Regions from separate parts of the Homo sapiens genome. Here region 2 is linked to region 1. Evidence: fine-mapped expression QTL. Tissue or cell type: tibial artery. Region 1 holds a variant in brackets; the other region holds the start of a gene. All regions are shown on one strand. Distances are from middle to middle.

The links. PIP is the estimated chance that this variant, and not a neighbour inherited with it, causes the effect.
Region 2: PART1 starts here. The variant in region 1 is fine-mapped to the expression of PART1 in tibial artery (GTEx, PIP above 0.99). The same link has a PIP of 0.9 or more in sun-exposed skin.

What each region holds. Positions count from the first base shown.
Region 1 is chr5:60,193,639-60,201,906 of GRCh38, reverse strand. It overlaps a transcript of PDE4D not described here. Among named protein-coding and RNA genes, the nearest start is that of PART1, 290 kb to the left of the region's middle. The variant T/C (reference allele first, on the strand shown) is at 3,686.
Region 2 is chr5:60,483,562-60,491,561 of GRCh38, reverse strand. PART1 (prostate androgen-regulated transcript 1) reads right to left here and starts at 3,849. Exons shown (of 4, transcript NR_024617.1): 1 at 3,139-3,849. It also overlaps a transcript of PDE4D not described here.

The DNA.
Region 1 (8,268 bases):
GATAAAAAATGTTAACTCTGTCAAATATCAAATTCTTATGTATAGTTGTATCTCTTTGGTGTTTCTGTTCAGTTCTATTGGATTCTCTTCTAGTCTGGTGCCAGTATCAATTATTATAATTATTACAGAAATTACTCCTTTGTTAATATTGTCTTTCAGAAATGTTCTGGATATATTTACATTTATTTATATGAGGTCTTAAAATACACAAGCAATGGGAGACAAGGGGGAATTGCAATTGGGGGTAAATAAAGCAAGTTTGGAAAAATGTTGATATTGTTGTAGCTGTGTGATGGGAATGTGGGACTCATGATCCTATTTACTCTGCTTGCATGTATGTGTGAAAGTGACGATAACAAAACTTTATATAAATAATTAGGTAAATAATTCAGATCGGAACTGCATGTAATTGGAATTGCACATGCTTTCCTCTTTAGAAACATGTTTTTTAAAAAAAGTCTCCTTTTATGTACTTCAATGAAGTTTTGTAGTTCATTTCTTTATATAGTCCCTCTACCTTTCTAAACAAACAAGCATACAAAACCTAAGAAAGCTTCTTCATGCCTAGTTTTTAAGTTGTGTGTGTGTGTGTAGCAATTATATTTCAAATTGTTGGTATATAGGAAAACCTTGATTTGTAATCAACCCAGTTACTTAACTTAAAAAAAAAAACTCTATTTCTTTCTTTTTTTTTTTTTTTGCTTTCTTTTTGGGAGGTTTTTCAAGTAGAGAATCCTGTGGTCTTCCTATAGTGATAGACTTGCCTCATCATTTTCAATATTTATGATTCTCCTTTATGGGATTTATTAGCTAGCACTTTAAACACATTGGCAACTGAGGGTGGTGGTAGTGGGTATTTTTCTGCTGCTCCCGGCTTTAATGAGAATGTCTTCCATCTTTGATCACTAAGCAAGACATTGGCTATTTGAGAAAGATATGACTTTTGGTCCCGTTTTATTAAATCTTAAAAATCAGGATTCAGTGTTAAGTGTTTTCACATGCATTTTAGACATTCTTAGAAAGGATTATGTGTTTTTCTTTTCCCTTGGTCTATTACTTTAATGAGTTATATTAATAGGTTTCTTACTATTAAACTCTTCTCACATTCCAGAGTGTGTAAACTCATGAATAATATGGATCTTGTGTACTGTCTTACAGAAATTCCCTAAATTGATGGCATTTCTCCATGAGTTTTCTATTGTTTCTTGCTTCTAAGTGAATTTGGGAGCAAGGAGAGTGAAATAAATGGACTGAAATTTCTATCTTATACTGGAAGTCTGGCATACTTGCATTGACTGTCATCTACAGTAGAGTCAAATGTACTGACTGAAATTCAGCTATGGTTAAAGAATGTGGCTTTTATTTCTTATAGCAAATTTTCTAGCTCTAGATTCTAGCTGTAGAGCCATTGTTCCCATTAATGAGGTGGGGAAAAACACCCAAACTTTAATTCATTTCGGGATTAGAATAGTTTCTTTTGGGTCAGTATGTAAATAATTGAAAGTTGAGCTATATATCAGAACTGTTTTTCTCCTCTTCAATGACTTCTGATGTCTTCCCTAAAACATAAAATAACTTCTGGGTGCAGGAGAAAACATACATATCCTGGATTTATACTTACTAGCCATGTAATCTTGTGATGATTATTTCAGCTTTCTCTACCTTGATTTCTTCATCTGCAAATTGGATATTAAAATGACAACTATTTTACAGAATTTTGTGGGAATTGAATTAGTTAATATATTTTAAGTGATTAGAACATTTCCTGGTACATAGCAAATGCCCCATAAGCGTTTGTAATTATAATATAAAATTATGATTGTTCTCATAGTGTTAGGAGTGAAGTGGACTTTGGTTCATGTGCCATTTTCCAATTGAGTGCTCTTGGGATGATTTGGTGTCTGTCTCTCCTGCCTCCACTTTGAAGTATCTGAAGCTGGTTTAATACTCTAATTCTGTTCTCTTGCCATAAGCAAAGAATAGGAATTACATCTGTTTTTGCCAACTAGGTTGGCACCCAACTCTTGCTGGGAATATGGGGTCTCTTTCCTTAGTAATATTTATGAATGAGATAATCTGTAACAATATCTTGGTATGGTATGATATGTTGTGACATCATCTTCATCTTAGCAGAGTTTGGATGAGTTAGAAACTGAAAGACCATTTTAATACTAAGTTTCTTTCATTCAGCTACTTCTACTTCAGATATTAAATTTGGTTTTACTTTTTCATTTATATGCTTTCGCTTATATTACTTCTTTAGTGAATTAAAGAGATTTTTAAAGAGAAAATTCTAGCTTCTCAAGCATCATTGTCCTTCTGAAAAATTGAACTAATAAGCCCTGAGATGATTAAAGCGTAGCCGATCCTTAGAAAAGAAATTGCCATTTTCCATTTTCACTAAGAAATTCATCTATTAGCACAATAATATTTATGAGATTTTGCTGTTGTGCAATCCCTCATTCATCCCTTATCACCATTTTGAATGAAGAGAGAGCAAAATCTAATTCCAGGTGCCAGATGGGTGCCACACAAATGGCAATGATTCAGCACAGGCTCCAGTTACAGATACCAAGCTCTGAACAGCTATTTGGATAATCAGGAGATCTTGGTGAACTGAGGTGAATTTTCTTCTGTGTGTCAGGTCCTCCACTTGTTCTTTCTCTATATTCAGAGCCTTTGAATTTGCTATGAAGCTTGGTATCTGCTTTGTCCTAGCAGTTAAGAGTTGGTGTCACAATTCACATCTTGCTGGAAAAGTGATGGGTTCATTTTGAGGCTCATTGAATGAGTCCTTGAAGAAGGAAGCATCAAAATGAAAAGGATTTCAAATCTCTGAGTATAAGGTTTGAAATGTTCATTTGACCTCACTGATGGCTGTGGAAAAGCCTAGGCTTGGACACAGAAACTGAAGGTTAAATCTTGTACTATAATTGAGTGTCTCTAGAATTAGTACAGGCTTCTCTCATTTTGTGGCAGTGTAACAGCAGACTAACAATCCTGGGAAGAGTGCATTTTTAATGAAACATTTTTGCAGGGTTAGTAAAATCCAGATCTCCTAAAAAACCCAATGCTTGCTTACTCTAAGATGAGAAGGATAAGCCAAATTCAAGGCTTCTCACTATGCCACCAGGTTATACAATAAATTTTGAGCTCCCCTATCCTACATTTCGAAGGATTAATTCTAACTGTAATTTACCTTGATTCTTAGAGCTCGCTGAGGCTCTTGGTGTTAAAGACATATCAGGGGACAAAGTAATAAAAAGCTTACATTTAAGGAGTGCCTTCTTAGAGTTAGGTACAGTGGTTATATACGCTGACATGTAAGTTCATCATTTAGTTTACACAGTAGTAGCCTTGAAATGTGAGTTTCAGTATCTACATTTATCTTGATCCTGACATTGACATGCAAAAGGGTTAAGTAGTTTCTCATGGCCATAAAATTAGAAAATGGCCAAAACAGAATTTGACTCCAAATTCTTTGGAATATGGAATATGACTGATTCCAAAACCTAATATTCCACTGATTAGTTTTGTCTCTTCATCTCTCCGAATCAACATCTCTTACATAAATTACTTTTGTTTAGGGGATATCTTAGAGTTCTTGTTTTATAATGGAGTGAGAAAAAAATATCTCCTTAAGAACAAAGGAATTAAAACAAGGCACTACATTGAAGGAGTTTAT[T/C]TTATCTACCACATATACACTGAATATGAAAGAAAAAGAGTATATTGAAAATGATTCTCTAATGGCAGAAAAATATTATAATTTATGCTGTACTAGATCTTGATTTTGTTGCTTGTTATTTTTAATGTCTATAATAAATTGGTAAAACAGTAAAACTCTTGAAAAGCAAAAAAAAAAAAAATCCAAATTCTTTGCCCACTTTTTTTTCTGCTGTTATTTTATTTTTAATGTAAAAAAGCCAACTGCTCTTTATCATTCGTTAGAAATTTGCTCCAAACTAAGGGGCATGTACAGTTTTCAATTTGTGGGTGTTAATGACTCCACCACAGTGGGCTCATTCCCTTGCAAGGGCGCTAACGGGCTGTTGCTTCCTAAGAGACAGAGGATTGAGAGGTTTTGGTTTCTACTCATAGTCTTTGGTTTCTTGGCTCTGTTATTTTCCTTGTTTATGTTTCTTTTAATTAACATTGAGTTTCTTCATTTTATGCCTTGCTTTTCTTCTGTTTGTACAGTCTGCCGGCAATGACTCCTTGGGTAGCACTTGTTAATTAGGGAGAAATGATAGCTTGAGGGTACTTCCTGACTTACTTGGTGCTAGGATAAAAGTTGTTCTACTGAAGCCGCATTAGAACAACTTTTATGTACCTACCTCAAGTAAGATCTGCATGATGCTCTACCAATTCCCTTTTGTCTCTTTGATCTTTACTTTAACTCTGGTTTATTTTATTTAAATTCTCATTGTGTCCCAAATAATCTAAACCAAGAGTATTATTAGGTCTTAAAATAATTCACTTGTATTTTTCTTAAGGAGGCTATTCACAGTAGATTTTGTGGGAAAATAAAAATTAGAATTCACGGCTGATTGACTAAATAAAAGCAACTAAAGAACCAAAGGGTATGTTGATTTTAAAAAGGAACTTCTGAAGGTATCTGGCTCATAATTACCCAGAGATAATAATTTTGGTTCTATAGCTCAGATTGAGAAAGCTATACATAATATAATGCAGGATCTATAACATGGATTGTCTTTCTCAATTTCTCACTATTCCTCACTCTCACCTTTCCTTCTCTCTTTCAGCTACCTATTCCTATCTAATCTATCTATCTATCTATCTATCTATCTATCTATCTATCTATCTATCTAACTGTCTATCTATCTATCTATCTATCTATCTATCTATCTATCTATCTATCTATCTATCTGCCTATCTTGTTTTTGCCAGAGAGGCAGAATGGTTCATGTTTTAGAACCTAGTTGGTCTCATGATACAAAGTACAGACTATGATTTGTAATTAATGATTTGTAGACAGCAGTCTCTACATACATTCTACAACCCTCAGTGAAATGCCATTTCTAATACTTCTCAAATTTACAAGTATTCAGACAGCAGATTTTACTTTAATATGGGACAAAAAAACATTAAAAAGAATAAAAGGCTCAGTGCCTTGATGAACTCCACTTTTCTTTGTAGCTAGTAAGCAGCTTGCACCAGAGATTTTATGGGGATCATCTTGCTATCATTTTATTTTCCTCATGATGACTCAGGGAATTTTATCCTGAGGCTCTCAATGGATCTGTTATAGTCAAGCTGATGATGACACATCTCAGAGGCTCATTCCATATTGGGCCTCAGGCCAGCAAACTACGCACCATGCTGTCCTATGATTCACAGGACGAAACTGCTCTAGACACCTCCCACTGCCCAGGCAGGAAGGGCACCATAATGAGGCAGTGGGAGGGTGTATGGCTAGGAAAGTTGCTAAAAGGAAGCTTTTGTTGTAACTTTCTTCTCTGCTGCAGGAGGCTAACACCAAAGCAAAGTATTATCAAGCAACAGACCCTACATTTATGCAATATTAATGAGAAGGTCCCTGGACTTTTAATTAGGGTGGAGAGTTGTGTTTTAGAGAGCTGAAATTATTTTAGGTGGGAGGAAATGGAATCCTGGGAGAAAAGTAATTAATTTATAGCTCAATGACTGAACTGTGCCATTTTGAAATACTGGTCAAGGTGAGCGTTGAAAGAGTGGGTACTCTGGCATTTCCATACCCTTGGGAGTGAAGAATTAGGCTATTTGGGGAGCCAAATGATATGCTTGTATTTCCAAAAATGTCATTTATTTTGTAATAAATTTGTGCTGAAATAAAAAGTGGCTTGTGTTCTCTATGTAAGTGTGACCGCCTGCATATTATTCATTCAATGGTCATTTACAGCATACTTTATAGGTGTGGAATTCTACAGATGCCTTTTCTACAGGGACAAAGTTCTGACTAGATGCACAAAGGAGATGAAAAGAACCGTCAATGTCTACTTTCATGTTCCTTTCCCTCTACGTGGGGAAAAACATCAGTATATGAAATGGCATTTGAATAACTTAAAGAGAAGTGTTCACAAGAGCAGAATAACTCGGAACAGGCTTTGAAGCCATTAGGTGTATGAATCATTTACTGCCTCCTCGGGGGTCCCACACCAGCTATTCTGAGATTCTGTCAGAGCACTTAGTGTATTGTGTTATTTGTCTCTGTCCCCCACTAGAATGAGAGTTCCACGTGGAGAGAGATTTTTATCGTATTTATCTCTGCATCCCTGGACCCTAGAGCACAGTTCATTGCATACCACAAGTGTCCAGTAAATGTCTGGTGAATGAATTAGTAAAATAGATTGCTGTTATCATTTTGGAGGAAGAGAAGGGAATAGAATGATGGTTTTATATGGACATAAACTACAAAGGAAATGATTTGATTCTTTTCAGTCTGGAGACAAAATGTGCTTTTCTTCTCTTAATTCTCTGTTCAATTCAGCAGAAATCAGTAAACATTTACTAAGCATATTTTATGTTGTAATTGTATATATAAACATGAAATGTTTTCTAACCTCAAGGGACTTAGAGTCCAGGGCAAGGTTGGCAGTGACGTACAATTAAACAGATCATTTTGATGTAATTTGACAAATATACTGTGGGAGGCATTCAGGAGGCATTATGGAGGGAGTAAAAAGGGATGTTAGGTCAGGCTGGCAGTGGGAATGGGGCTGGGATATTGGGAGAATCAGGAAACTCTTCCAGGAGGAGATGACACCTGAGTTGAGTCTTGAAGCAAGACATTCCCAAACAAAGGAAGAAGAGCATGGCTATGGGGTAAAGGAAGAGGGGAAAAAGTCCAAGACAGAGGACAGGGAGGTGAGAAACCGTATGGCGTATGCAAAGAATTACAAGTGGTTCCCTATAGCAAGTGAGTGAAACAATGCTGTGTGGGAGGTCAAGGGATGATACTGCAAACAGCAGACAGGGGGACTCCTACTTACCATGTAAAGGAGATTTATTTGGACTTTATGCTGTAGGGGATAGGCAGCTATTGATAGATTTTAAGGTGGACTTGAAGTAGGCAGTATTGGTGACAAGAAGAACATTAGAAAGTGCCTGAATTTGTGTAGATAAAACTCTGGAAGACTGTGGTAGTGGTAGACCCCTCTTAGTGTATGAGATATGTATGTGGCGGGTTAAAGTATACACATGGCAGCTAAAACAATGAAAACTAGTGGATTATCAAGAAATATAATCTAGAACAGAGGCTCCCAAGTGCCAATCAAAAGTGGTGGTGCTCTTCACCCTTCATGATTATTATCTGGGGTATTGGTCAAAAGTAGATTCCTGAGTACCTGTCCTCAAAGTTCTGATTCATTGGTGGAGAGTCAGCCATCTGCATTTTATGGCATTCCCTAGCTAATTTTGATATGCAGTCATGTTTGGGAAATGCTGATAAAAATAATATCAATGGTATCACTCATATTTTAGATGTAGACAAAATAAGAAGACCCCGTGAAGTAGCAAGAAGTTGAGCAGTCAGTTGGAGAACCAGCAGAAGACAGAGGAAGAGGGATTTTCTAGAAGGCAAAACAATGTGATAGCAGAGAGTTCTAGTCAGATAATTTGTGAAAAGTTTGTTAGATTTTGTGATATGGAGGTCTAGGATCTTTAGAGAAAGTAGTTTAAGTGTGGAAGGAGTAAAACTTGCTTGCATTGGGTTGAGGGGTAGACAGTGGGAATAAGGAGGTAAAGAAAGATAACAGACATTTTTTTTCAAATAGCTTGATTTTGAAGAGAAAGAGAATGATATCTTGAGGAGGGAGAACATAGGGTTATAAGGATAATTTACTTTTTACAAGAGGAGAGACTCAAGAGAGTATTTAGATCTTGAGGGGAGAGAACCAGTTAGAACTAGAGCAGATGGAGGAGGAAAGACAGGCATAGGTAGAAGACAGGACTCCTCATAGGAGGAGAAACACCTCACTCATCCTCTCAGACAGCGGGAAAGGAGGTAAGGGAGAGTAAGCTGGGTGAGGAAGGAAGCTGAGGCATAATTTTTGATGGGATGTTCAGAGAGACATTAAGAGGCTCAAATAGTTGAAAGGGTACAAAGCTGGTTGAAACTAAACCTAGGTAAAGAGCCCTATTGTTAACTTACTATTTTAAAAATATTTTTCTTGAAAATTGTGACAGCTTTTTCTTTTCTTTTTTTCTTTTTCTTTCTTTTTTTTTTTTTTTTTTTTTTTGAGACGGAGTCTCGCTGTCGCCCAGGCTGGA
Region 2 (8,000 bases), 290 kb before region 1:
AGAAGAGTTTTGACTGCAATATATGAGTACTAAAAGTTGATGGTTTATGCTAATTTTAAGTGTAATATATTTTAGAATTTTGTCACATGCATTATTAATATGATTTCATATTCATGGCCTTAGGAAGATTAATTTAAACAATAACAACAAGAACAACAACAACAACAAAATACAACAAAAAATTTCCCCCATGTGCCAAGAGCAAATTTTGAGGTCCATTTATCCAGATAAAGTGTTTTGTTATCTGAACCAAGAACATGAACTTTATCTTTATAGTGACCACAGACTCCCATCTCTAGTATCATGATTTTTAATTTGAATTAAAGCATTTTTTTTTGCTTTGTTAAGATGAGGCAGGCCTTCTTGCTGACATTTTAAAAAGCAACTATTTTTCTTTCAGTTTACACTATGAGGCATTGGCTCCAACTGTCAGCATTGAAACTGTCAGCAGTTCCCTACCAGGAAACTGGTTCCAAGGTCTAGGGTTTCCTTAGGTAGAGGCTGGCACTGTGAAAATAATGGGGCTCTTTATCCATGTCACCTGGAATGGAGTTAATACCCTGCCAGTCTTAGTTGATTTGACATACTAACAGGATGGGTCTGAACGTTTTCTATAGTTTACTCATGAGTGACTTTCTTTGGCTTACGTAAATGGCAAGGCCAGACAAATTAGCTTATGGACCTAGCAATCATTCTTGGCCCAGATTTTGAGACACTTTTCAATCAACCATAGTTGCTCTAATACCTGAGATTTGCTGACAGTGCTTGGTTCAGAAAAAGGTTCAGTTTCCTGAGCAATTTTTCTTTTATTGGGATCATCTTAATTCTTGTTTGCGGGGTTAAGATGAAGGAAATATGAGCAAGGACTGCACTCAGCTATTTGGGTGACCCTTGTATACCATGAGCTTCTTAGATAGGGCCTGATGTGATCACCAGAAAACATTAATTGATCGTGATGACAGGAGATAGTCTCTCTAGCCAGAACCTGCTAATACAAGTCCTGATGAATTGAGAATGATGCCTGAAGGAAGCAGACTGACGTGGTGCATTAGTAATTTTAGGCAAAAGAAGATAATGGTACTAGTATGTATATTTTTTAGTTTCCTTTTCCATTGCTTTGTTTTGCACAGGCTGAAGAAAATAAATGTAAACAGCATATTATGGTGGCTCAGGGTGGATAATAATGGGACATCACTTCCTTTGTTTCAGTGTGAGGTTGCCCCTGCTATGTGACAGCTCCAAGGACTAAAGATTTCAATCCCCAGAAAAATGTCGAGTCCCAGTAACATGTTTCAGGTTATCATGATTATTATGATTATAGGAGGGGAAGAGCAGTGCTGGTCTTTTAGAAAGTTCTCATCATGAATGTGTTCTGGAGTGAACATCACTTACTAACAGATGAGCAGCTTGAAGTTGAGTCAAACAAAACTTTTAGTGTTTGTAAGGGTCAGGGAGCCAGGGGACAGTCTGTAACTCAGTTGTATATTGACACAGAGAATGTACAAAAGCTGTGAAAGCTTCCACTTGAATGACTGCGGATGGTTGCTGGTGACGGTCTTGGACAGTAAGGGTTTTCTTCGGAGTTGTAGGAGGTGAAGTCTTCCTATGGGAAATTTCTGGACAAAAATACAAATGAAATGACTTGCAGGCCTCAGTTTAGAGTATTGTTGGCTTTGTCTGTCAACAAATGGAGATTTGAACATGGGAGTTCAAGGGGATTTTAATGAAATTTTATTAAGGAGATGAGAAGCAGGGAGTCTGTGTTGAAAATTCAATAAAGGGCTTGTTTTCCATCTCAGCCTGGATAATCTATGTTATCTCTGAGTAAAGGGGGTAACAATTCTAACAACCTGGCTTCCTTAGAAGTTTCCATTCTCATATAGTCACCGAAGGCAGCAGCACTGTCAAATAAACAAAGGTTTAATTAAATAAAAACTATTTAAACAGAGCAGAAATATTCTTCCCTGGCTAGTCACAGATTGGACAATTCAAAGAACAAACCCTGGGGGGAAATTGCCAATGGATTACTTTTTCTGTTTTCTGTCTATTGCAACGTTTTTCTTTCTGGTGTCAAATCTCAAGTTGAATTCAGTCAATTATCTACAGCCAAAAAAAGTGCATAAATGTCTCTTCTGTTACTGTTTATATGTCACCACTAAATAAAGCAAAATTTTCTTCTCAGCTTCTTGCCTTAGGATTTTATAAGTCCAACAAAACAAATAAAATATTATGTATATTCTATCGTCACTATGAAAGCATAAGGATTGATTTAGTTATGTACAAGTTTATTGCCAAAGTTTTTCTTCGTTGCTAATGTTACACTTGCTACAAAATGTATTAAAGAAACAGACAATTTGCTAAGGATTTGGAAGGATTTGTCATTGGGTTAAGTACATTAAGTATCTAAGGGGTGTGGTGTTCTGGTTATGTGTATGTCAGTTTCACATATTTTTTTGCTTTCTTATTTTAGTTGCCTCTATAATCATTTTGACTTTAAAATGTTTTCTGCAGATCCTTTAATAACTGCAAATGTAGAAGTATGGTGTAACAAGTAATTGGTATGACTAACACTAAAATGTAATGGGAAATAAGGATACTATTGTAAAGAAAACAAGAAAAACCTGGGGTAGGGGAGCAGTATTGATTCTCTCTTAGGATTCCTAAGATTCTCTGTCCCAACCCTTCTACCATGGAACATTCTTATGTGGTCTAAGTGTCAAAGACCAGAGGAACTGGGCAGTAACTTATCTTCTCAATTTTCTCTCTGAACATAGATATTTTCTTTAAGATACGAAAAACTTTTAATTGTGCTCCTGAAACCCATCCCTGTCCTGTCTCAGCCCCGTTGACTCTTCTTTCTGTGGGTGGGTGAAAAGCCTACCCATCTGCAAAGGTAGCTCTGAAACTGTTCTGGAAAATCCTGTATTTTCCTCCACAAATGATCGTTTTAGTTTCAAGTTTATTTCAGGTACATTAATTCTCCCCCTCCTCAGACTTCATAACAAATGATCCTGCACACGATTAGAATAGGAAAATGTAAAATAAAATCGAAGCATATCTAGTTGCCTCAGCGACTTTATGCTTATCACTTTCAGTCTGCATTATTCTACTAAAAATAAAAAGAAAGATGAAAATTACCTCAGGCGTTTGCTGCCGTGCCTGCCCTTTGGTTTCTGGGACGGCTCGGGTCCCGTAGCGCCGGCACAGCTGAGATTGCCAAGCCGGGAAGAGACCTTGCTCCAGGTGTAGCTGCGTTTTCCCCAGATCACCTGTCCTTTTCCCCTCCGACAAGGAAGCTGTGATTTTTCTCTGGCCTTTAGAGGCAAAGTGATTCCAGATAAGTAGATTAATGTGTAGAATATCTCATCTGTGTTGTTCCAGTGCAGCCCTTTCAGCTTTCCAGAGCCAGTTAGACTTGTTATGAGGAGCTAAGTGATTGGCTGGCTCTGGAGCTCAGTTTCATAGATTATAGCCCAGCGTACGAGAAGCACGAGTCCTATAGTTGGCGTACCCTGAGGCCTGCCAGTTCCTGCCTTAATGCATATGTAGTCGTAATTGAGTTCTGACACGGCCTTGGATGTTTCTGTCCTAAATAGCTGACATTGCATCTTCAAGACTGTGTGAGTAATCCTGATATTTTTTTTTTAAGCTCAGTAAATTAATTACATGCCCTGGGAGGGAGTGATTGTAAGTAGAAAATACTGAACTAGCAGATGATTCGTTTTTAAGGTGCTATACTATGTGTATCAAGTTCAAGACGATGAATCTTAAAGCTTCTAAGAACTGGCAGGGTTATTCCAGCTTTGTGCCATGAATCACAGTCAAGCTGCATTTTGAAGGAGGCTGTTTGATGCATTTGCTAGCTCTGTTTGTTTTATGGGGTCAGTAAAGTGGCAGAGGTCCAACAGGAGCAGGTTAAAGCAGGATGCTGGGATCAAAGCTTAGAGAGCACTTGAGTCAGGCAAGTTTTAAGTTTTCCCACCCCCAAGCATCTCAGTCCAAAACTGAGAGCAAGCAGCAAATATTATAATAAATGCTTTGGGGACAGGGGTACACAGCAGATAGGGCACAGTAACAGGAGAAATGTAAAATGATGGCAGCAATACTTTTGTTCACTGTAATCTGCAGCCAATTGAAGACATACACTATGAATAACTAAAACATTTTTATATGAACAAAAATGCTCTTCAGTGGTTCTGTTTATGTGGTAGAGGGCTGAATGAAAAACCATGCGCTTGTTGTAAAAAAGCCTTATAAAAAGTACATTAAACACATACAGACACAACCATAACAGAAGAAAGTATGTGGATTGGAATTTGTGATTGGAGCAGATCAAATTAAGCCAGGGAAGCCGTTATTAGGTTTGTATGATTGCTGGGGGGTAACTTCTGTTGCTGACAAGGTTTAGGATAAAGCTGGAGCAGATTGAAGTGGAAAACCAGAAAACATCAGCATTTCATTACCTTCTATAGCATACACTGCAGGGTAGAATTAATACTGAGTATAGACTGGTAAATGTGAGCAGTTTACTGTTTGCTTTTAAATCATTATTGATTTCCCCTAGCCTATCATAAAAAATAATAGGGCTTTTGCCTATGAAATTAGTGCTTAGAAATATTTTTCTTCCTCCCAAATAATTTTTATACTTTTTCTCAATACAGCACAAAGGTAGGTCATTAAAAATAAAGGGGTTCCTTTTCAAGTTGCTTTTTGTCTAATTTTTCCTCTTTAGACCTGTAGATACAAATGTATGTATTTGTGCTATGTATAACTCTCAAGCATAAATCATTTGAACAGTATTTAAAATCACAGGCTCCTGTGGCAAATATAAACTTTTAATAGCTATAGTTGGCAATTACTTGCCAATTCCTATAAAAATAACATTAGTGGCTTATTTTTGATTGCACCTAAACAACTGGCATGATTTAGCCAGTAGGAGAGAAATATTAGTTGTGTTTTGCATAATTTTGTGTTTAGATCACACTGGAAATACAAAGTTTTGTTGTTAAAAATATTTTTGCTTTCTGAAATATTATCCCCTTTCAGATCACACCAATGAATGAAGTTTGTAGAAAGAAAGAAAAGTAGCCAACGTAGACTCCTTTTCTGTATCAATCAAATATATGCAAAATACATAGATTTTTAAAAATGTAATTTTAATACATTCCTTTAGAAACACATTTACTTCATGAAGAAACAGTATAATGAGTTCATTTATTGACCCAGAATAGTGAGTTGATTTATTGAGTTTCTGTAGCCATAGACACGAATAGTAATGGTTGGCTCATTCTTAGCTATACATTCCTAACTGACTGTATTAGTGGGAGAAAGGAGTGCATCTATAAAATAAATATAATCCCATCCCTCAAGGTGGTCTGGAGCCCATCTAAGAGTAAGAAGTAGTAGAGTTGAAGCTGCTTTATCTGAATCAGCTCCTGACTTCAACTCAGCTCCTCTTTTTCCTTAGGTCCATGTGGCCCACTTGGTGTAGTATTCACATCTCCTTCCACCTTTTTATGCCTTCATTGTTTACATTACCTTGCTTGGGCTCTTATTGAGATGAATCACATAAAAATGCTTAATTATCAAACATTAATCAGCTGCCTATATAATTCAGAGGATGTTTAAAACCAAGGCTCAAGGAAATTCTGGTGGGTGTATACTAGGAGTATTTACGTCTTGCATCGGTACTTTCCTCTGGGACTTCCATCACTTCAGTTCTTCCTGAGATGCCAGAGTCATATCTCTTACTTGTGAAAGAACAGAGCTTTAAGAAATGGAGTCTAGAGGTGCCAGGTGCCCAGTGGACAGTGGGCTGGGGGCAAGGCATGGTGGGGAAAGCAAAAAAAATCTCCCAAACAGCAATAGTTGATCTTTCTTCTATCCACTCCTCTCAATTTTCTAAAACCATTTTTGTCTAACTGTGGAAGTTCTTTTGCAGATAAGGTTCTGTAAAACTATGCATATCTGCCATAGACAGATGGATTTGACGAAAGATGTATCCAAAAAGGAATGTATCACATCATGAACTTGCTAAGTGTTCATGAATACACACTGGCATTTGGAGACTATTAACACTACCTACTGAAGCAAAGACATAAATCCAAATTGAAGAAAATATAATTTTTTGATTGAATTACATTTTCCAGTGGGTTTTTTTTTTTTTGGTGAATTTTGTTTTTGGAAAAATTTGCTCTTCCCTCCAACGTTTTTCCTGTGTTATATATAGGACTGATTTGATTTCTTCAGCTTGCCCAAGAATTTAATAATTCTTACTTTGTGTTTTCAAAAGAGTTGCTGTCTACCTTGAGCATGTTTTTAAAAAAGCAGAACAAAACGAATGAAACAAATGTCCCTCTTCCCACAGAAAAAGCACACCACCAAGGAGTTAAATGCCCTACATTTCTTTAAGTCCCTCCTTTTGTGGAGCTAGACACTGGTAGAAGAGGAGCTTTCATTTAATTTCAAGACAATCAGTGATTCCAACTTAACTATAACTGTGTTCCTCTAATATCTGATTTCAAGAAGCAGAACATTTTGGTGAATTAATCTTAGAGTCAACGGGACCACGCTCAGGCCATGAAACGTTTTCTAAGCCTCAGTCTCTATGTCTTTAAAATGAAAATAATGATATATGTTCTGGTATTTTACTAGATTGGTGAATATCCACATCACAATGAGAAAGTGCTTGTCAAAAGAACATTGTAATGTGTAATTTGTAATGTGCTGTACATGTACACTATTATTATGACTGTAGCTCATCACGCTAGGGTTAGGACTCTTTACTTCTAAAACATATTCCCAGTAATGGACAAAACTTTTGAAGCAAAGAAAATCTTCACTGTTTGATCCTAATGTTATGAAGGCTTTTGGACCTTACATTTGTTTAAGCTCCCATTGAAGCTCCCATTGGAGCTTCAATGCTGATCCATCTATTACTTGAGTATTAAAAATACCGATAGGTTTACTGTGATAAACGAATGTGGCATTGTATGTGAAAACATATTTAGTAAACTTCCATGTGCCATAGTCGTATAAATATTACATATTGCAACAATTATCAGTATATTAATAAAAATTCTTTGCAAATTTTCAATTTTTAAAATGGAAAGTATCAGATATATTTCTTATTGATTGGATTGACTAACTTTCTAAGCTATGTTTGCTTCCCTCAAACAGGATGAATGTTCCTGTTGGTTAAGCTTTCTTTCCACTTAGATACAGCACTAAGCCAATAGTTAGATAAGCATTCCTTCACAGCCTACATTTGGAGCTGCCAATGACGAAGTTTTAGAGGACATATTTTCCTCACAGGAAAAAGTGGGTTAGGAAATTTAGACTGACAGATGTTCTTGGGTTTTTTTTTTTTTTTTAATTCCTGTCTTGACTCTCATTATTAAATTTTGCTAAGGAAATAATTATGTAGGTTTTGAGGTGATGCTTATTCCTAGTAGTCTTTTCATCTCAGGGATGCAATGAATGGTCAAAATGACCTTCTGAATGATTTGAAAGATCAATTAGCAGTTTTGAATCCCAAATTTTTAGGTGGTTCTGCTTCAGAAAATCATTATGCTTTTTGGAATAATGTCCATAGCTGCATCCTACATTTCAGTGGTTTCAGCTCACTGCTGTTATAGTTTGATGATTTCCTAACAGCAATATTGGTTATGCTAAAGCAGTTCCCCATTTCACCTGTTGAACCCTTTTTAAAAGATAGAAGAAATTATAGAGGAATCACAATAAGTAAAACGTATTAAAATGGAGTGGATTATCTCCACTTTTATCTCACACAGCTCACCCAGAAATTCATGAGAGAACTTTCTAGGAATGAAACAATTTCATTTGTAGTAGTATTTGAAAACTGGATCTAGGGCCATTGACCTGACTTTTTTGTGCCTTTGGTGATTGGATAAGAACACTTCTTCAGTAATTTAAAACTATAGTGAAATAATGTTTTTTTTTAACTTCTCAATAGGAATTTATTTATTCAGCAAAAATCA